2 separate regions of the Homo sapiens genome follow, and region 2 is linked to region 1. Evidence: fine-mapped expression QTL. A gene starts in region 1. The other region holds a variant in brackets. All regions are shown on one strand. Distances are from middle to middle.

Region 1 (11,546 bases):
AAAGAACAATAGTTTCATCATAATACATTATGTTTACCTCCATCATAGTTGCTTTTTTCATAGTTCTTGTTTTCATGTTTTATTTTTAAAAAGACATATAAAGATTGCATATTTTATTATGACATTTCCTAATAAACCCCTTTGATTTAAAAATGTATTTTTAAAAATGTTTACATTGATGATGAGTAATATTGCATGTGTTTTCAGGTGATCAGATAAAATATATTTTGGGAAATTAACTGAACAAATAAAAAGTTTTTGATATAACTTCAATTAATTGTACCACATGCTAATCCTGAAGAGATGTGTAGAATTTTGGAAAGGGTCTAATTCATACATGCTTAAAGTATAACCTACGTTAGATAGTTTGTTGTCAAAGTCTGTTCTAGTAAAGTGAAGATTCAAGTCAGTTGTTCAGTTACTTGAAGCAAAACGAAATCTTTCATTTCAGTCAAATCACTGCAGTCATGAAATACTGAACAATTGCCTTAAGTCTTTGCTTGACTCACTGGGATAGACTGAGGCTTTGGGTGTGTCTGTATTAGCATTTCATTAGTACTTCACATGCTTTTGATGTACTCTTGAGATTGCTTTAAATTTTGTATTGAAACAACAATACATTTTGCACTGTAGTAATGGGAGCACTAACTCTTACAACAGTTAGTGAATCGTTTTAAAGAATCAGTTCAGTGTAGACATTTTGAAAAGATTGTTTCCTGTGCTTTACGATAGCTTAGTGCAATGTGCACTTCTGTTTTACTTGCCATTTTCCTGCTCTGTTTTCTCTGTGACATGAAGCAACAGAAACTGAGATCAAAGTTAAGATTATATCCTGTTTGTAGTATCAGATATTTTTCTGTGTACAATTATAGGATTGTAATCTAAACTGGAATTTTTAGGCAGTAAGTCACCACAAAATGTTTTAGATAAGACACAATAAAATTATTATAAATAAAAGCTTAATGTTTGTAAAAAATCTCTTTTTTAGTATTTCTTTTTTCACATGAAAGAAGTGGTGGCTGCTAAAAAAAAAGCTACAGTGTTTATTAAGGGTCTTTTTGATTTATGTAAATATTTGTAAATTGGTCAGTGCCTGTAAATTTAAATATAAAAAGTAACCTTGAAAACAGTTTTAACTTTTTCAAAAGAACTATGTCCAACATTTTTTAGACCTGCTGTAGTACAGTTTTGTACCTCTAACGTATTTTTTTTTTGCAGACCAAATGCTAAAACTTTTGCTTTTCTTTGACTTGTAAAAGGTGCACATTTTCATTTTCTTCCTTAAGTTCAAATTTTTGTATGATGTCAAATGCAATAAAATTTATATATGGACATTGTTGAGGTGCCTTTTTTTTCTGTGAAAATCTTTGCTTTGAGATGAGACCGAGGCTGTAGTTATCATCTAGAACTGAACTAAATCTACTTATTAGCCAGCTAACGACATCAATATCTTATGTCTCTGGCATTATGAGGAATGAAAGTTTACACATAGTGAATTTTTTAGATTCCTGATGTGTAACACTTTTTATGCATTTGAGCTTTTCATATTTTGGGGGGGAATTTTTCCTAAAATTTACACTGTGCATCTCTTAATCAGAATGTACTGAGTAGAGTTAATATTCTAGTGATGACTGGGTAATCATTATAAGCATTAGTCATAGTACTATTCAGTAATACTGTGCAACTTTCAGGGATGGGTAAGTATGTACCCTCTGCCTCTACAGTATTATGACATTTCCTAATAAAACCCCAGAATTTACCATGGTGTGGGTTCCTTCACTGTCACTGTTTTCTCAGTTTTCAGTGGCCCCACACTTACTACTGCTTTTCTTTGTTTTACCACGAAAAACAGATCAAGAAGTCACTAAACTTAGACCCAATTCTATATCAGTAGACTGAGGCCTGAAATTATGCACACATAACTGGCCAAATATCAGATAAGTGAACTGTTAATATATGAGAGAATTTTCTGGACTTTTAAGTTATTAATCTCAATTATTTGTGTGGTGAGTACTAAATTATTTTCTGTTTGTGTTGATCTGTCCATTTCTGTATATAGTTGTCCCTCAGTATATTGAGGGATTGATTCCAGGTCAACCCCGTCCTCTTCAGATACCAAAATCCACAGATACTCAAGTCCCTTATATAAAATGGTGTAGTGTTTGCATATATCCTACACACATTCTCTTGATACTTTAAATCATCTCTAAATTACCTGATACGTAATACAATGTAAATGCTATGTAAATAGTTGTTATACTGTATTGTTTAGGGAATAATAATGACAAGACAAAAAGTCTATACCTGTTCGGTACAGATGCAACCATTCTGCCTCCTCCCTACCCCCTCCCAAATATTTTTCATCCTGGTTGAATTCACAAATCCTACATGGTTACGGAGGGTTGACTGTATTTGCATATGTTGTTAAAGTGGTGTTTAAAATGTGCAATCTGTACTACAATTCTAAATTTTGGATTGATTTGAACTAGGATCTTTGCAAATAAATCTCATAGACATTAATGTTTGTAAGAAATTTTTAATTAAATGATGGAAGGAACATAGAATGGCTACCTGTGATTTTGATTAGTGTTTAACAGATTGCCACAGCTGTGATTGAATTCCTTTTGTACTGGATGAGCATGGTCATTTGGGATTACTGATGGTGAAGTCTAGCTGGTGTTAAGAGAATAAATATTGCTGATGCTAAACCTGGTTTAGTGAGCTGTGGAAGCCTTGACTCTGCTGTTTTCCCTCCTTATGCCCCACTAGCTGATGTATCTGTACTGTAATTCAATGATTTACAGTTCATTACCTCCAGACATAATGCATGCATACCAGCTCGTGTAACTGGTGAATAATCCCCAGCTTACAGTCATATTTAACAACTCTGTGACTTGCTATAATTAAAAATAAATGTTAACTCTTCTAGCCATCAAATCATTCTCATGAAATGAATATCTTTATTGTAAAGTTACCTCCATTTGTACATAGCAGTTCTGGTTCTGTTCTCTTCAGGGAGCATCCATTATATGTACCTGCTATGTGCTAGCTACTTTGCTAGTGTGTAGGCTTGTAAGAGATGGGGATGATGGGACAAAGAAGAGTAGTAAACTTACGAAGTCTGCTGGGGAAGGAGATACAAACATAATTTGAATATAGGATTATGTGGGAACCTGGAAGAGAGGTACTGAGTTTAACTTTGGGATTTCAGTGAAAGGTGGTGATCTTGAATGATGGGTATCCTGGTAAAAATGGGACCAACCTTTGAGGCAGAAGGAATTGTGTTAATAAAGACACAGTGGAGTGACTTGACAATGTTGGGAACTCCTGACTTCTAAAGACACCTGACCAGCTGGGCGTGGGGGCTCACACCTGTAATTCCAGAACTTTGGGAGGCTGAGGTGGGCAGATCACCTGAGGTCAGGAGTTCGAGACTAGGCTAGCCAATATGGTGAAACCCCGTCTCTACTAAAAATACAAAAATTAGCTGGGCATGGTGGTGCGCGCCTGTAGTCCCAGCTACTCGGGAGGCTGAGGCAGGAGAATCGCGTGAACCCAGGAGGTGGAAGTTGCACTGGACCGAGATCGCGCCATTGCACTCCAGTCTGGGCGACAAGAGCAAGACTCCATCTCAAAAAAAAAAAAAGAGTAGACAGGTAAAACATGGCCTGTTAGGCAACCGTTACCTTTGTGAGGGTGTTGGGGTTCAGTCTTTGAGCAGTGGGAAGCCATTGAGGGGTTTTAACCACAACTTGATCCGGGGAAAGGTTTGGGGCATTTGGGCCAGTTTCAGACAAAACTTAGCTTTTTGCTAACGTGGGGGAAATTGCTCCTCCTCAAGGTTTAAGATGAGTGGAGATAAAGTTTCCTGGCTCAATAACAGGGACCACTGAGCAAGAAAATACACAGTATATTGACTTGCGATATAAAGAGAGCCGGGACGGAACACTGGTTCAAAACTGGGCTTTTGAGCAGGGCACGCCTAGCTTTGTTTCTCATTGGGTCATTTTACTAGCAATGACAGCCTGAGCTGCTGGAGCTCTTCGGAGTCTCAGTTTCCTCATCTGGGAAACCAGCACTACAGTAAAACCTTCTACAGGTACCACCACAGAATCGAGGTAATGAAAGCGAGACCCTTAGCAGAGTGCCTGGTAGTTAAGTGCCCAGCTCAGGGTATTGTTTGGGATAAAGGGTCCAGAAAGTAGCTCAGCTCAAAACCGAAAAGACTCACTCTGGAGGAAATAAGAGACGGGGCTAGGTTGCCTTTCCTCCTTTGAACCCCCTGGTGCAGCCGGAGCCCGCGCCCCTTAAAGTGATCTCCAGTTGTCCGAAAGGCCCGCCAGGGATCTGGCGAAACGGGGGCGGGGGAGGGCTCAGGGAAGAGGAGAAGCTGAGCCCGGGCCCCAGAAGCTCGGTGGCGAAACTTTGACGCCTTCTATTTAAAGTCGCGGGGCTCGCCCGCCCCCGGCGCCGGGAACCCGAGCCGCCCCCGCAGGGGCAGGGCTGGGGAGGGCAGGGGCCAGAGCAGTCGGAGGGAGAACACCAGGCGCGGCGCGGGCGGCTCCGGCTCCGGCCCCGGCCCAGGCCCGGGAGAGGCGATGGCGAGCCGCGATAGCAACCACGCTGGCGAGAGCTTTCTCGGCTCCGACGGGGACGAGGAGGCGACCCGGGAGCTGGAGACCGAGGAGGAGTCGGAGGGCGAGGAGGACGAGACGGCGGCGGAGTCGGAGGAGGAGCCGGACTCCAGGTAGCGCGAGCCTCTCTCCTCGGCCCAGGGCCTGCAGGGCAGCTAGCAGCACCCTTGCTTGTTTGCTTTAAGTTTTTAAGCTCTGGGGTTCGTTTGCCTCGAGCTAGGCACTTTCTCTCTGGGTGCACTGTCGTTTAAAAGAACTTGAAGGTGAAGGTGCTCGCTGTCAGCTGGAGTGACAGGCCCGCCTGCAGCAGAGTTCATTACCCCCGCCCCCAGCTCCTTGTGACTCGCTGCTCTTGTTTATTCCTGAGGATTTACTTAGGTCCTGCATAACTGCCGAAATGTGCTGGAACACGTACATCTGGCCCGAGGCACAGGAACAATCGCGAAATCCTGCGCTAGAGGAGAAGGGGGTGGGGTGGAGGCGGTGAAGGCGCACTGGTACCTTCCGATGAATGGCGGTCTCCCCGGGGGCCTAGCAGTAGGCTAGGCTGCAATAAGGTGACCTTATTTTGATACAAAGGCCCATAAATTCTTTGGGGGAAAAGAAGCATGAGTTTCAGTAATCCCTGTTCTTCAAGTCCTGGTCCCAAATCCCAAATATCAGTTTCCGTGAATGCGATGAAGTAATACTATGTACAAAAGATGCACCTCCCACCCTTCGATCTCCCACCCTCCGTCCCTTTAAGAAGGCCCTAAAATGAGAATAATAGAAATCATCTAATGTCTATTTGGATTAGCTTCTACCTTCACTTGTTTTCCTTGAGTATGAGTTTTGGGTTTTTTCCTGACTGTGTGTCAGTCAGTGATGTCTCTTCCTCAGTCTGTTCATAACAGTAGAAAGGCTTTGAAGGTGGCAGGTGGGTGTGTACCATCTCAGAACGCCCAGCTTACCTAATCAAAGCCAGCAGAGCCGATGTTGAAGAAGTAGCCCATAGAGGGGCATTGAGGAGGATGGATGGTCAGACAAGAAGTCCTGAATGTATGTCACCTGTTTATCAAACAGCTGCCAAGTGGGAAGCAAGCACAGTCCCTGGCCTCAAGGACCTTGTGGAAAAAGTTTCCCTAACTTTTTCCCCTATGGGGAAACGTTTCCCTAACATGGGGAGTGTGAGACTATATAGAGGTGGAAGGGAGGACTATGGGTACTGTGCAAGGGCAGAAGAGGGAGTGTTGGGCTGGAGCTGCCTTGAAGTAGTGGGCAGGGACTACAAACAGGAAGAGCAGAGGAGAAGGCACCTGTAGGAAGTGGATCAGGGAGTAGGGGACCTGTGATCCCTTGGCAGTGTTGAGAAGGGGAAGTCTGTCAACTCAGCTTTTATAACCTTTCCCTTACTGTTGTCTGGGATCCTCATATCCTTGCCCAACCACAATTTACAACCAAGAGAATCTGAAAACTCATTTACACTAAAATGTGAGCAGCTGACCATTCACTCTGGGGTTGCATTGCCATTTGACAAAGGTCAAGGCCTTCAGAAAAGGATGTGATTTGTCTGCAGTAAACTTCAGCCTGTTCTGACTACAGACAGTAAGGTGGACACCAGGGAAAGAGGTCAGAATAAATAGAGTGGAGGGACACATGAGGGAATATGGAAAATGGAGGCCTGGAAAAAGCATCCAATTTATTTTTTATTGGATGACAAGGGTAACAGGAAGTCAGCAAAACTTCTGGATTTAGGAAAAACACGTATCGACGAAAAAGCATCAAACTCTGTAAAATATCTGAAGAGATTGGTTCTGAGCCAAATATGAGTGACCAATGGCCTGTGACACGGCCTGCAGGAGATCCTGAGAACATGTGGCCAAGGTGGTTGGGGGACAGCTTAATTTTACACATTTTAGGGAGACATGAGACCTCAATCAAATACATGTAAGATGCACATTGGTTTGGTCCAGAAAGGTGGGAAAACTGAAGGGCATGGGGGCTTCTAGGTTATAGGTAGGTTTAAGTTTTTTCTGATTGGCAATTGGTTGAAAGAGTTAAGTTATTCTCTTAAGACTTGGAATCAGTGGAAAGGAATGTCTGCATTATGATAAGGGGATGTTGAGACCAAAGTTTTATCATGCAGATGAAGCCTCCAGGTAGCCAGCTGGAGAGAGAATAGATTGTAAGTGTTTCTTATTAGACTGAAAGAGTTGTTCTATCAGTAATTCCAAAAGGGAGGGGGGTGTAGTGTAGTGAGGCATGTTCCATCTCCCCACCTCCACCATCACGGCCTGAGTGAGTTTTTCAGGTTAGCTTTGGAATGCCCTTGCTGAAAGGAGGGGTCCACTCAGATGGTCGGGGGCTTAGAATTTTATTTTTGGTTTGCAAACCTTCATTTTTAAAAATTCAAAAGACACAAAGTAATCTGTAAACGTTCCTTTACCCTTTCAGGTATGATATATATAATTATCTATAGTTACCTTTCTGAATTGAGGAAAAATTCTCTTTAATTATAAAATGCTTTTGTAGTGCAGGAAAGCTCATCATTTACATACACCAACATGGATATTGGATCAGAGAACTATCCTTCTGATATATCATCCAGTGATATGAATGTGACATGTAACATCAAGAGGCCTGTGAATCCTATTAGTTGTTCCATAATGGGAAAATCCTGTCCTCTTTGAGCCCAATTTTCTCATCTGTAAAATAATAAGAATTCCTAATTCATAAGGTTGTCATAAGGATTGCATAAATTATGTGAATGTGTGTAGGAGTGCTTGGTTCTTAGTAGGTTCCCATTAAGCTTTAGTTTCTTTTATTCCATCAGATGAGTCATTATTAGCAGGAAGGCTCTACCTTCTGCCCACCATTCATCCATGAAGGGAGAGATGGTCTCAGCTTTCAGTATAAATAATGATCCTATTTCACTTTGTATTCATTCATTCACTAAACATTCATGGAGTGCCTACTATTAATATTTGCCATAGACAATGCGAGGTGCTGGGGATACAAAAATAAGAATCCATTACTGTCCTCATATTCACCTTCTAGTTGGAGAAACAGAAAAACGTAATTATGTCATTAGCTGTTAGAAGAGATTTAAGGAAGAAAAGGTGTGTATGAAGCACCTCAAAGTCTTGGGATACATGCTACCTGGAAGGGTTGGAGAAGCCTTCATCATTGGAGCAGTGTTTTGAATCATAATAAAATGCCTCATAGTGCTTGTAGTTTGTGGATATCAAAAAAGATTTTTATGTTTCTAAAACTTCATGGGAGAACTTTTGTGAAAGGCAGATTATAAAACTCACAGGATTTTAGAGCTAGCAGAGGCTTTGGAAGTATCTGTTCTCAACCGATCTGATTTTAGATTCAGAAACTGTCAGGAGTCGTTTGTTCAAAGTCACACAATTTTTTTTTTTTTTTTTTCTTGAGGTAGGATCTCACTCTGATTGCCCAGGCTGGATTGCAGTGGCGTGATCACGGCTCACTGCAGCCTTGACTAACCAGGCTCAGGTGATCCTCCCATCTCAGCCTCCTGAGTAGCTGGGACTACAGGTGTGCATCACCAGGCCTGGCTACTTTTTTGTATTTTTATAAGAGACAGGGTTTTGCCGTGTTGCCCAGGCTGGTCTTGAACTCCTTGGCCCAAGCAATCCATCTGCCTCCAGCCTCCCAAAATCCTGGGATTATAGGCATGAGCCACCGTGCCCGGTCAGCCACAGAATTTTTTGGAACAGAATTAGGAGTAGACCCCAGGTGTCTGGACTCCAATTTAATGTTCATTAATGTATTCATTTGGCAGATATTTATTGAACTCCTACAATGTGCCAGAGACTTCCTAGGCACAAGGAATACAGCTGTGAACAAAATGAATAAGGTCTCTGCCCTGCTAAAACTCACTCCAGTTTGGGGAGACAAATAAAACATATAGTATGTCAAGTGGTAAGAAATTATGAAGACAAATATAGCAGGATAAATGGGTGGGGTATATTTGGATGAGGTAGTGAAGAAAGCCTCTCTGATGAGGTGACATTTGAGCAGATACTGAAGGAATGAGTTTCTAGGCAAAGGGATGACCAGCTGCAAGGGCACTGAGGGAGGGATATGTGTCTTATTTGAGGAACGCAAGTTGGTCAGGATGCTGGAACAGAGTAAGGTAATGGGGCGAGTGGTCAGAGTCAAAGCTAAGAGATAGTTGGGTTGCAGATCATGTAGGGCTTTGTAGCCCATGGTAAGGACTATGAATTTTATTCTGAGTAAAATTGGAAGCTATGTTGTGTCTACTATACCAGTCAGGATAAAAACAAACAAACAAAAAACAAGGAAAGCACAGTGATTGCAATATTCCTTTAAATAATAAGCACCTATACATTTGTATTTTCATTTGACTAATATTTATTTAACACTTACCATGTGCCAAACTCATGGTTTCCTGTATGGAGAGGAGACAGAAGTAAATAGGACTGTTACTTTTGTATTTCTCTTGCTGTAGACCAGTGAAAGCCAACTCTTTCAGCCTTTCCCACAGATCACTTAGAAACTTTTCAGCATTTTTATTTTCGGTCATTCTCTGTTGGTCAATTTTCATTTCTCTATTTAAGCACAGAGGATTTTTGCCACAGCAGTACCCAAAACTTAAAAATCACCTTCAATTGCAGCTTTGCCAGTGCTTCTATAAAACAGGTCTGTCTAAGCTGACAGAATTAAAATTATTAGTGACATTCACATTTAACTAGTCCTTGCAGGAATAAACCTTTTGGAAGGTGCAAGGAATTTGTAAATGGTTTTCATTATCAGTACAGAGCACTCTGTTTCCATATATCTATTTATATGGTGTCTCCCACAGATGTGCTTACCTAGGTGTTTTGACAAGTGTGTTATTTGAGCCAGCCTTCTTCTGAGGTCAGTGGAAAGAGCTCAGAATGGGAGGGGTTGACTGCTCAGGATGCCAGAGGCTGAGGGAGGATAGAAGATAACAGAGTCACTTGTAGCCAGAAACTGAAGAGCTATTTAAGTGTTGGCTGCATGGATATTTTATGTCCTTGGTAAGACTTTGACTCAACGAAGAGTTAAACTCAGCAAGAGTTGGAATTATTACTATTTTTTCTTTAGAAAGGCAAACTTACTAAAAAGTGTAGGACATACTGATAAAATTTTACACACAAAAAAGTCCATAGTCCCTGGATATTCTGAAAACAGGCTTAATGAAAACCTAATTTTTTTTAGTCATTAAACCAAATTCCCCTTCCTACCAACATGACTTAAGAGAATCAAGTACAAGAGACCAGTTGTGGCTGTACATGAAAATAACCTTTGATTTAGCCCAGCATTATCCTATAGAAATATAAGGTGAGCCACATATTTAATTTTAAATTTTCTAATAGCCACATTTTAAAAAGCAGAAAGAAACAAGTGACATGAATTTTAGTAATCACTTAACCCAATATCCAAAGTATTACCATTTCAACATGTAATCAGTGTAAAACTTATTAGAGATATCTTACATTATTTTGTACTAAGTCTCTGATGTTTTTTAAATACTTACAGCACACCTCAATTCATCCTGCCTAACCACATTTCGAGTGCTTCATAGCCACATGTAGCTAGTGGCTATCATACTGAACAATGCAGGTCTGATAATACCTAGAAATCTGTTAGCTTCATTGGAATCTAGAGAACTGCTGCATTGGTAATAAATTCTATATGCCAGGCCCTGTGCTGGATACCAGGGACACAAAGAGGATTGGATGACACAGTTGTTTTCCCTCAAGGAGCTCAGTCTGGTGAGTGGAAGCGGTTAATTTCAATGTAATATCATAAGCATTACACTAAGGATATTAATAGAGGAATATCCAAAGACATTCTTCCTAAAATGAGATTTAGAAAGATTCCTGTAGAGTGACACTGCAGTTGGGCAGAAAGATATTCCAGGCACAATATGTGGTTAGGTATTCCTTTAGTTCCTGGTTCCAGCTCTTGTGCTGCTGATTGCTGCTTTGTCTAAACTTTCTTGTTATTATCCAGAATCATCTCAGGATTTTTTAAGGTTGAGAATATTTGTTGATCGGATAAGTGAATGGTGCGAATAAATAAATGAATAAATGAGTGCCTGAGTAAAGGGCAAGCCTTCCAGACTTCTACAAGAAGCAAGTTTAGTTGGAATATTGAACTTGTTAGATCAGGTAAGATTTTTGTTGGTTGTTGACAGTTCATTTACCAGGGATTGACAATGCCCAGTGAATCTGGAAAGACAGTAGCTTGGAGGGAACAGTGATAAGTACTGAAGGATTGTTCAGTTAAGGTGTCTGCAGTCATCAGTGCCGCCTTCTGTGACTTGTCAGAAAGCCATCCCTAGACTGACCCTTCAGCCAGATCATAGACGGAAAAATAAGAATAGGCTTTGCTTTTTGCTCAGAAAATTTTTCTATTAAGACAACCAAAGTGGATTCAGTTCCAAAATTCTTCATCCTAATCTGATAAAGTCCAAGATATGTGGGAAGATTAATTGATGCTACTGTTCAGTCCACCAAACTAAATACTCAGAGCCCTCTCAGGGAGCTGTTAATGTGTTTTCTTCCTGTAAGTATGCCTCCTTTTAAGAAAAATTCACTTGCTAAATAGAAATTTACATTCACTGTTATATACCATAAATATATACAATTTTGATTTTAAAAAACTTTTAAAGAAATTTACATTCACTGCAAATTTCCTCCTAATGGCTGATTTCACTAGGGCACTTAAATTGTTGGTTTATAAATAAAATTAATTTCTTCCATTTAAAGAAATGTTTTTATTGGCTGGACGTGGTGGCTCATGCCTATAATCCCAGCACTTAGGGAGGCCGAGACGGGCAGGTCACCTGAGGTCAGGAGTTCGAGACCAGCCTGGCCAACATGGCGAAACCCCCGTCTCTACTAAAAATACAAA
Region 2 (11,546 bases), 170 kb after region 1:
AAGAATTTGATTGAGACTGGATGAAGCATCACAATTAAGCGCTTAAAATACCATAAAAAGTAAATTTCTTGCCTTCCTTTTCCTTCTGCTTTTTTTCCTTTCTCTTCTTTCCTCCCTCCCTTCCTTTTCTTAACACTAATTGAGCTGAGAAGCAAAACTTACCATCACATTTACTCAAAATGGTCATGATCTAATGGGGGAGACAGGAGGTGGCATCAGGAGCTCCGGCCCAGGGTAGAATGTGAGATGCTCCCAAAGGGAAGGGAGCTTTGCAAAGGGGACAAGATGTTTTAGAAAGAGGAGAAGCAGCATTCACAGATGAGTCCGGAACAGATTCTCAGAATCTGAAAGGCCATCTAAGGCCAACTTATCCAGGGTCCCTTATGGGATCCTAAACTGTCAGTGGTTTTATGACCTTTCTTCAGTATCTGTAGTCATTCAATTGCCAGACAGGTCAGCATCCCAAAGACAAATGATAGACAAAGTCTGTATCTGTCGATATCCATCAGGACTTCTTTGGTTATAAGAGACAGGAAATTGACAACCTGGTTGAAGCAAAAAAGGTAAAGGTAATTGAGTGCCTCATAGCACTGAAATGTTCAGAAAATAGTCCTGGCTTCAGTCGAGACTGAATGTAGGGGCTCAAATGACATCTACTCTGAATCTCTCAGCTTTGCTTCCCTCAGGTGTTGCTTCCTTGTTAGGCAGGCTTTCCCCTTGTGAAGGCAAGACAGCCACCACCTGCCCAAAGCTCCTGTCTGCTCAGCAACCCAGGCGGAAGAGGGCAGCTCTTTCCTGCTAGCCTTGGGCAACTCTCAGGCCAGCTGGAGTCAGGGCTGATGCCTAGACTAATCACTGTGGCCAGGGATGGAGGACACGAATGGACCAGGCCTGCTACAGAAACACCCCTGGGGCCAGACAGCGGACACAGCTCCACCCAAATCATTGAGAGTAGGGATGGGGCTGCTCCCCAAAACAAAACCTGGGGACTGAGACCAGAAGGGGCAATGGGCTCTGGCCAGTCAAAAACAACCCAAGTCCCCTTCAGTACAAAACACATACATCTATAAATCAGAAGAACAATTCATAGGAAAAATAAAGTAAAAAGGTAAAAATTCCCCCCCAAATCCCACAGCGTATATATAATGAACATATTTGCATTCAAAACCTTTTTCCTGTTCCTAAGCTAAAATGCCCCTCTACAGTTCTTATCCAATGACCCTAACTCCACCTTCCTTAGCTACATAGCAAAGGTTAACTCCTTTTAGAAAGCAGAAGACACCCTCCAAATGTTTGAAGACAGCTCTCATGTCCCTGCCAAGTCTTCCTTTCAGCCCAGTATTCTACCTGTGCCTCAGTTGTTCTGGTTTCCTGACCCACTGGGTCATGGCCGTGATCCTGCCTGAGGCTGGCTGCAGTTGGTCCATTCCTTCTTGACATGAGCTGCCTGGATCAGACCTCAATCCTTGATAGTGTGGATGGGCAAAAGGGGGCTGCCATTTCCCTTGCTCCGCATACCACCTTTTGTTCACAAAGCCTCTGATGACATTCACTCTCTTGGCAGCTCTGGCCCTCTGCTGGTTCATGCAGAGCCCAGAGTCCACCCAAACTCCCAAAAGCCTAAGTCCTCCCCAGAACACCTAGCCTCCCCCATTCCACACCACTGAATTCACAATTTGAACCTCAATGCAGGATATTGCAGGATATCACATGCATGTTGACTAAGCTTTCTGGTTGTTCCATTTTGGTTTGCTTTAGTTCCAGCCCGAGAGATGGTGTAGAGCCCCCTACTGCCACGCATGTGTCAGCTCTCTGACTCAATGGGAGTCAGAAGCACGTTGACCCAGGTGTGAGTCATAGGTGGGAGGGTGACAGGACCGAGCCAAGGCTACAGCACACACGTAGAGTGCTCACCTTGTTCAGCACACACTTAGAGTGTTCACCTTGGGTTGGCACCAGTGTGAGCATCTGTGGATGACCAGCTCTGATGCTCGCAAACTGTGCTGCCATCTATGCTGTACTTCCCTATCTGGTCACTAGAGGAAAGGAGATGACCTTTAGCCTGGGGTGAAAGTGGCTGGAATTTCAATAGAGATGGGGAGTGGGACTGGGGGCGATTTCTAGGTGTCAGAGCTCCACATATAAAACATGAGAGAGGGAAAGGCAGCCACCCTTGAGAGAGAAGCCCCTGAAGAGAGGGAACAGGTAGGGAATAAGCAGACGGCGAGAACCCTGAGGGCCTGCGTGTCAGTGAGGAGCCCGCCATTCAAGACGTTTGGAGCAGAGGCCTGATGGACTCGGAACTGCCCTATAGGAATACCCCGGGCTGCTGGGCAGGGAGGAGTGAGGCCACAGTAGCAGACTAGAATCTACATAAAGGAAGTTAAAGTCCCTAATCAGGACATAATGGTGGTGAGGATAGGGTGGGGGAACAGAGAAAAGGCATTCCAGAAATCAACTCAAAAGGACTTCGCAACTGTGTGTGTTTTGGGGCTGAACTGGGAGGTATAGAGAAAGAGTGATTAAAGATAACCCTAGGGTTTTAAACCAGAGGAAACTGGAAAGTGTTAATACCTGGATCAAAATTAGAATAATCAGAAAGAGCAATGGATTTGGAAAAAGAGAAATTGTGAAGGAAGAATTAGACTTTAGGTAAGTCGGTAGTATTGGTGGGATTCTGATGATGAGTGGCAGGTGGTTAGAAAAATGAGGGCAGGCATTTGTGGAGAAGTTGGAATTGGAGGTGACAATTTGGTTTGTTATATAGAAATAAGAATTGAAGCTTCAGAATTGGTGTGTTCAATATGGAAGAATGTGAATGCTGGTGAGGGCTGTGGACAGGTAAGTTGCGAGTGATAAAGTATTCTGCAATGGAAATTTCTATCATTAGCATCAGGATCCCATGCATGAGATAGGAGGAGAATAAAAAACCAATGAAGGAGAAAGAGAATGTAGGTGGAAATCTGAGATACTGCAGATCATCATAACCATAATTTGTCAAGACTTTTTTTTGCAAGTGATAAGAAACAATTCAAATTGGTTTAATAAAAAAAGAGATATATTGCCTCATATAACTGGTAAGTCCAGGGTAGTCCACATTCAGACGCATTCAGTGGCTCAAAGACATTGAGACTTATTTTTACTCCTACGCTGTATTCTACTTTCCTCTGTTGGCTCAGGACTCTTCTCTTTATGGTGACAAAATAGCAGTCAGGAACTCCATTCTATCTTCTGCCGCAGGAGGAACAAACAGTTCCAATGGTTGCCATTACATGCTCACCTCTGAGCCAATCTCTGGGGCCAAGAGGTGGCTATGCTCGGATGTGAAGCCACACTCAGCTCTGACTTGCTGGTCTTGGAGAGAGCAGCACCTCAACCTGGACACTGAAAATGGGATGCTGAGGGTGGGAGAGGGTTGGTTCCCTAGAGGAACACTGGGGTGCTGCTCCCAGAAGAAGGTAGAATTGACACAACCAAGACAGTGACTATCCACTACAGAAACCAAGGGAAGAACTTCAGGGAGGGTTGTAGTCAACAGTGACAAATGATGCGGAGAGGATGACGAAGAGAAGTGAATGGGCACAGACTTCAGACATGGTGGCTGAGTCATTTGTTTCTTTCAAAGATTGTAAATATGTGAGGAAAACAGATTTTAGTGGGTGAAGGGATGGGTGGGAGTAGAAACACTACAAAGGCAGGCAGGCATCTGCTATTTCAAAGAAGTCCATCCGTGAAAGGAAGCAGACAGACTAGCTTTCCCCCAATTCTGTCCCACAATTACTGAGCGAGACGCCGTGCTAGGAATTGGAGCCCCAAGATTAATAATTCCCAGTCTACATTCTCAAGAAGCTCAACGCTTGGAAAGGAAGAGATAATTGTAAATGAATAAATTATGGGGAGAAGGAATACGTCATGATTCCAAGGTTTCAGAGCGGGAAGTTACAACAATGAGAAGCTGATATTAAGCCAGAGCTATCACAGAAGACAGAATGATGAAATCAGTCTGAGTGTACAAGGAAAGGCTTTTCAGGGGAGGTGGTACCTGAGCTGGGTTTTGTAGAATGAATGGGAGCTCATTTTAGGAAGCAAGATGGGGAAAGCAGTGCCAGGCAAAAGCAAACATTCCTTAAGAGGTTCACAGACGCGTACTGCTACAGGGAAAACTCCAGAGGATGGGAAGAGTAGGCAGGGAGGCCTGTGTGATATGCTGAGGGGTGTGGGGCAGGGGCAGTGAAGGGTTTTTAGGTCAGTGCAAGGCAATGTCAGATTAGCGTGCTAGAAGAACCTCTCTGGACTCAGTCTGGAGGGAAGCCTGGGGGAGACCGAGGGGCCAGTTCAGAGGATGTGTTGATAGTCATGTAAAGGAGTGACCAAGTCCAGCACAAAGAAGGCGGGGACAGGGAAGAGGGGAAAGAGTGAGAGGAGCACCAGGAGAGGGGAGAGCCCGTAAGACAGTGAGAGGGAGGCAAGCTTTGAAGACAGGTGATGGGGCTGAGGGCAGGAGGAAATGCATCCCTGGAGAGGGTGACGCCAGAGGTGCAGGTGGGAAACGGGTAATGGGAGGAGGCAGAGAAGGTGGGCTCAGGCATGGGTGGAGGCGGAGAGAGGCCAAGCAGTCAGAGAGGAGGAAAGATGGAGAATATGGATAAGAACCCAGGGCAAGAGTGAGAGAGGCAGGAGAACAGTTGAAGAGCTTTCCTTCTCTCCATGAAGAAAGCAGTGAGGGCCAGGCATGGTGGCTCATCCCTGTAATCCCAGCACTTTGGGAGGCCGAGGTGGGCGGATCACCTGAGGTCAGAGGTTCAAGACCAGCCTGGCCAACTTGGTGAAACCCCCGTCTCTACTAAAAATACAAAATGTAGTTGGGCGTGGTGGCAGGGGCCTGTAATCCCTACTACTTAAGAGGCTGAGGCAGGAGAATCGCTTGAACCCAGGAGACGGAGGCCGCAGTGAGCCAAGATTGTGCCACTGCTCTCCAGCCTGGGTGAAGAGTGAGACTCCGTCTCAAAAAAAAAAAAAAAAAAAAAAAGAAAAGAAAAAAGAAAAAGAAAGCAGTGAGATCACCTGTCACTATATGTGGGCTGCAAATTTCCCTTTGGGGAAAATGGGGATAGTAACAGAAGCAATGGATCACTGAATCACATCAACTCCACCCCAGCTGTCCCCTCCTCTCCATTCTTCTGCCATTTGCCTCTCCCAGGTCTTCATTAACTATACCAGTGGTTCTCAGGGTGGGTGTGGGGTGCTTGAACCAACCTTGATCATCCTGGGAGCTCCTTAAAACTCTCACCCACCCTAGCATCTGATTCAGGAGGTCTAGAGTGAGCCATGGGCATGTGTGTTTCCAGAAAATCTCATATAGGAGAGATTCTGAAATGTATCACACAACTTAGAATTACTAAGGTTCATAGGACTGAGTCCCGGAATTTGCCATGTTGTGGGAGAAGACGGGGTGGAATCATTTGCAGAAGCTAGGTGGGTGTAAGTGACTCAGGAAAGGAGGACAAGGAGGAGGTGGCTGTGCCAGCAGATACGGGAAGGAGCGGGGGCTCCTATTCTCACATTCAGCAGATACGCCTCTCCCAAGCATCACTAGGCCAATCCCCACCCTTCCCAGGCTGCCCTTTTTATAACTTTATTTCCCCTTCAGTATTTCCCTTGATGTTCACTTTAGCCTGTGGGCCACCAGCATCAACATGCAGGGTCACAAAATGTGATTTGCCAGTGAGCACACAACAGACTAAGAACTATCAAAGCTGAGCTGAGGATAATCATGATTTTCTGAAATATCATGGCCATTCTTCTGAAGGCAAGGAATAAAACTGGGGAGAAAACCCACCCCCACACACACGGAAACTTGACAATGAAAAGGCACTGGGTACCTTCAAAAGTTGCACGAGTTTGTGTGCAGCACTGCCCTCTGCTGGTCAGAATCAGACCTGCAGCTGTAAGGCAACAGCATCTGACTTCTGGATTTTACGGTAAAGAGGACAGGTTAGTTGGGCTTCCGAGTCATTGTAGGTCAAGTCACACACTATCATTAAGTCCACATGTGTGACTCTTCAGGTACAAACTGAGCCTGAAACTTTAGGCTTGGAGGTTTCCAGTTAACTATATTCAAATAAAGACGCAACTGCCTAGGAAAAACACGAAGTCCCTGAATAATTTCTTTGTAAAATATTTGGGTGTGCATGTAATGGATACAGTCACCTGGAGACAAGTTGCAGAGGTAGAAATCTTTCCTGGAGTCAATGAATGAATTTTTTAAAAGTCTGATAATTCTATGCTGTTAATAATCATGGCCAACATTTACTGAACATATATGGTTATTGGCATCTTCTGTGCATTACATCAACTAACTTTCCTAACAACCCAATAAGACAAGAACAATTATCATCTGTACTTATAGATGAGGTAACAGGTATAAAAGAGTCCAAGGCCACAAAATCTTGGCAGAGAAAGAGATTACACCCAGAACTTACTATACAGCCTCCTTGTTAAGGTCATACCAACTGCTTTATTACATAGACACCAAAATACGTAATTGCTCTAACATCATAGATGTTTTATTTTGTGCTTCTATAATGGTCCCAAGTAGGTGTTTCTTGTGACTGGGTGCCTCTCCTCCTCCAGGTGCTGCAATTCCGGGACTCAGATTCCTTCAGGCTTGTGGCTCCTCCACCATGATCTGGGTCTGGTTATTTTCATACACATCTAGCCACCCAGAAGAAGAGAAAAGAGCAAGGAGAAGGCACTCCTGCTTCTTAAAAAACAGCTGTGGCTCACAGGCCAATGGAAAGAACTATTCTTCTGGCCACACGTAGATGCAAAGGAGGCTGGGAAATGCTGTCTCTGGCTGGTCAGCCTCTTTCCAGCACCAGTGCCACATCATGAAAGGGGAGGCAGGGATTTTGGTGGTCAAGGGCCACCTCTGCCCTCTCTCTAGTAAATATGATGGATGGTTCACTGATTTAAGCCACACCTTTGGCCACTACCCCAGGTGAACACCACAGCGAGGTCCTGAGACTGGGTTCCTTTAGCAATAAATCCTTGGAAGGTGCCTTTCCTCTTGACAAAGCACTTTTACACCTTTACATTTAAATTATCCTATTTAATAATTTAATTATTCCATTTCATCCTCACAACTCCTGTGAGGTGGGTTAATTGCCTTTATTTCACAGCTAAGGAAAATGAGGCTAAGCCGTCGGGTGGTTGCCCAAATTCCTACAGCTGGGATTCAACCAGTTTATTCTCGTTGCCAGATCCTGGAAATAGTGGCAGCTGCTAAGCTTAAGTGGAGTTTGACCAAAAAGCTTTATGGTAGAGAGAGAGAAGTGGGCAGAGCTGTGAGCAGAAACAGGC[A/G]CTCACAAATTCGTGGCCTGAAACGACACTGCTCATTAAACCTTGTGACTTTTGGTCCAGTCTCTGCCAGAAATTCTAAAGTTGGAAAAAGTTGAGAGAGAAGGGAGGAGTGACAACTGCAGGCTGCTGGAGAAACAGCAAGGTTCTCAGAATTTTTCTTCTACCTTGATCAAATGTCACAGAAGGTATAGAACCATGACTTACATTTCACAATTTAATGATTTACATTGCAGATTTCATTTACCTTGGACGATCCTATCATGTTCTTTGTCGTTGTGGATTTTTCCTTCTGGAAACTTGTGAGGGGACTTCATTTCCCTCCCATACGCCCCCTCACCACTTTTAGTCTTATCAGAGTCTCTGATAACAGTCTAGTAATGAGGGACTATCGTTACTTTTATTCTCACCAAGCTTTCATTCTGGGCTAGTTTAAACATTTCAAGTTTTATTTTATATTTTTATTGTGCAATGTTTAAAATACACAATAAATTTAAAGTGTTAGCATTTTCCTAATATCTTTATGTTGATTTCTAAATTAATTCAGTTATGTTTACAGAATATACTTTCTTTGCTTTCAATTATTTTACGTTTGCTAAGGTTTATTTACAGCACAGAATGTGGTCTATCTTGTGTACTTGAAAAGAATGTGCATTTGTTAGGTGAAGTGTTCTGTATAAAAATCATTTGGGGCCAGGTGCAGTGGCTCATGCCTGTAATCCTGGCACTTTGGGAGGCCGAGGGGGGCGGATCACCTAAGGTCAGGATTCAAGACCAGCCTGGTGAAACCCCATCTCTACTAAAAATACAAAAGATTTGCCAGGCTTGATGGCAGGTGCCTGTAATCCCAGCTACTCAGGAGGCTGAGGCAGGAGAATCGCTTGAACCTGGGAGGCAGAGGTTGCAGTGAGCTGAGATCACGCCACTGCACTTCAGCTTGGGCAACAAGAGCGAAACTCCATCTCAAAAACAAAAAAATTACTTGGGTAAAGTTGGTTGATAGTGTTGTTCGTGTCTTCTATAACCTTGCTGATTTTATGTCTACTTTTTCTATTGATTACCAAGGGAAGAGTGTTAACATCTCCAACTATAATTATGGATTTGTCTGTTTCTCCTTTCAGTTCTTCTAGTTTTTGCTTCATATATTTTGAAATATTGTTGTTAGGTGAATATGCATTTAAGATTATGTCTTCTTGGCAAATTGAACCCTTTATTATTATGAAATGTCCCTCTTTATCTCTGAAATCTGCTTTGATAATAACATAGCCACTCCAGTATGGTACATTTTTCTCCATCTTTTTACTTTTAACCTATCTGAATAAATACAGAATATATTTAAAGATATATCTTGTATCCTGTTTTCACCTCTAATTTTTGTTCTTCTGTTTTCTATTTCATACCTTATTTTGGATTATTTGAACATTTAATATTATTTAATGTTTGTTTGAATAATTAGCATTCCATCTCAATTTAGCTACTGGCTTCCTGGCTATATCTTTGTTTGTTTTTAAAAATTTTATAGGTGCTCTAGGGGTTACCGTATACATACCTAAAGTTCCACATTCTACTTACAGGTAGTATTTTCCCACTTCAACTAAAGTATAGACTCTTCCAATCATATTGGTTCCTTTACATTTACATACATTGAAATCTCCACTATATAATTTAATGATTTTTGCTTTCAGTAGTCATACACAATTTAAGTAACTGAAGAGGAGGGAAATAGTATTTATTGACACAGATATTTACTATACTGCTGTTGCTTTTTCTTCATTTCCTAATTTCCAGGTTTTCCTCTGATATCGTCTATCTTCAGCCTGAAGAACATCCTTTAGCATTTTTTTTTTTTAGGGCATACCTGCCAGCAATCGATTCCTTTGGTTTTCCTCCATGATAACAGACCCCATGGGGATTATTAATTTCTAATTTAATTAGGTTACAGAGTATATTAAGTATAATTTCAATCCTATTAAATGTATTCAGACTTGTTTTATGGCCAATGCAATTGTCTATCCTTGTGAATATTTATGTCCATTTGAAAAGAAGGCATTATTCTGCTGGTTTGGGGTGTCATGTTCTACAAATATTATTTAGACCAACTGTGGTTCATATCTTCTATATCGCTACTGATTTCTTTTTGCATCAATTACTAAGACAGAAGTATTAACATTTTATATTTCTTCTTTCAGTTTTGTTTGTGCTTTACATGAAGTTTTTGAAGTTCTGTTTTTGGATGTACACTCATGTAGTCTTATGCCTTCTTGATGTATTATTATGTATTGCTATGAAATGTTTCTTTCATCTTTGACAATAATCGTTGTCTTGAAATCCATTTCATTTGACATAAATATAGCCATTTCCATTTTCCTATTATTTTTTATCTAGTATATCTTTTTCTATTCCAGCATTTAACTTTTCTGAATTTTTGTATTTAAAGTGGGAAAGTAGATTTTTTTGCAGATAACACTTGTTGGGTCTCACTGTTTTATCTAGTTTGACAATCTCTGCCTTTTAATTTGAGTGTTTGACCATTTGTATTTAATGCAACTATTAATATAGTTGGGTTCAAATATGCTATTTGTTTTCTATCTGTCTCAATTGATCTTTGTTCCTTCATCTTTTCCTACCCTCTTTTGGATTTATTGAGTATTTTTAATATTCTATCTGCTGTTGGCTTATTGGCCATAGCTCATTTTAAAAACTATTTTCATAGGGTCATTCTACAGTTTACAATATGAATCTTGAACTTATCACAACTTATTTTCAAATAATATTATACCACTTGACAGCAGCATATTTCTACTTCTCCCTTCCAGTCTTCTGTATTATCATCGTCATACAGTTTATTTCTGCATATGTTGTAAGGCCCATATACACTGTTATTAACAATTAAATGTCTTTTAAAATAAGTTTAAAAATTAGAAATAAGTATTTTATATTTAATCACATATTTATCATTTCTGTTTTTCCTTATTCCTTTTGCAGATCCAAATTTCTATCTGATATTATTTCTTTCAGCTTGAAAAATATCCTCTTTTATTTCTTTTAGTGCAGGTCTGCTGGCAATGAATGCACTCAGCTTTTGTTTGCCTAAAATGTTTTTAATTTTTGTCTTTATTTTTGAGGGATTTTTTTGGGATACAAATTCTCGACTAATAGTTTTTTTTCTTTCAGCACTTTAAAGATGTCATTTAATTTTCTTTTGGCTTTCATTGTTTCTAATGAGAAGTTAGTCAAATTTTCAGCTTTGTTCATATATATAGTGTGTGCATGTGTGTGTTTTCTGGCTGCCTTTGAGGTTTCATCTTTGTTACTGATTTCCAGCCATTTGATTATAATGCATTTTAGTGTGTTTGTCTTTATCTCACTTCAGTTTTGCTGAACTTCTTGAAACTGTGGGTGTATCTTTTCATCAAATTTGGAAAAATTTTGGTCATTATTTCTTCAAATGTTATTTCTTAATTCCCCCAGCCCACCCTTACCTTTCCTGAGACTCCATTTGCACATATTATCCCACAAGTCACTGAGGCTGTGTTTATTTTTTAAGGCTTATTTTTTTCTCTATGCTTTAGTCTGGATAGTTTCAATTGTTATGCCTAAAGTTCACTGTTCTTGTTTTCTGTAATGTCTAGTCCTCCTTAAGCCAACCAACAAATTTTTCATTTCAGACAACCCATTCCTTGGCCCAGTATCATTTTCCCTTAATGATTTTAAATTTTATTCTTATCAGATACTAAATTTTCATAGGTGTTTGTGTTTAATTTGCTTTTTATTCTGTTTCATTAATCTATTTGTGTATTTATGCTCTAGAACCGCATTAATTTTTATTATTATAGATTAATATATGTCAATATCTGGAAGGGTTAGTTCTCCCTTAATACTTCTGCTTTTCAGTCTATTCTTGTTTATTTTTTCAAATGAAGTTTAAAGTTGGTATGTAATTAAATGAAAATTCTGTTGATGTTTTAAAAATTGTACATATATATTACCTTAGGGGTAATTAGCATTTTTCTTATGTCAGAGCTAAATATGCAAAAACAGGGTTAGTCTTTACAATTTTTTCAAGTTTTTTGCATCCCTAAGTGGCATTTTAAAGTTTTCTTCATATAGATCTTAAATATTTCTTTGTTTATTACTAAATATTTTGTGTTTTTGTTGTTGCAGCTATTATAAATGAGGTCTCCTTG

Which allele goes with the higher level. Alleles are on the strand shown, and positions count from the first base shown. SD is a standard deviation of normalised expression in the study named.
With allele G in place of A in region 2, the expression in thyroid of the gene that starts at base 4,527 in region 1 is lower (small effect, 0.28 SD a copy in GTEx).

Evidence for each region.
Region 2: its variant is fine-mapped to the expression of CMYA5 in thyroid (GTEx, PIP 0.98).

Annotation. Positions count from the first base shown.
Region 1 is chr5:79,685,310-79,696,855 of GRCh38, forward strand. It overlaps CMYA5 (cardiomyopathy associated 5), which reads left to right and starts at 4,527. Exons shown (of 13, transcript NM_153610.5): 1 at 4,527-4,747. The coding sequence starts at 4,599. It overlaps TENT2 (terminal nucleotidyltransferase 2), which reads left to right. Exons shown (of 15, transcript NM_001114394.3): 15 at 1-2,937. RefSeq lists an enhancer at 4,037-4,538.
Region 2 is chr5:79,852,394-79,863,939 of GRCh38, forward strand. It overlaps LOC105379048 (a long non-coding RNA gene), which reads left to right and starts at 7,468. Exons shown (of 3, transcript XR_948500.3): 1 at 7,468-7,547. The variant A/G (reference allele first, on the strand shown) is at 7,363.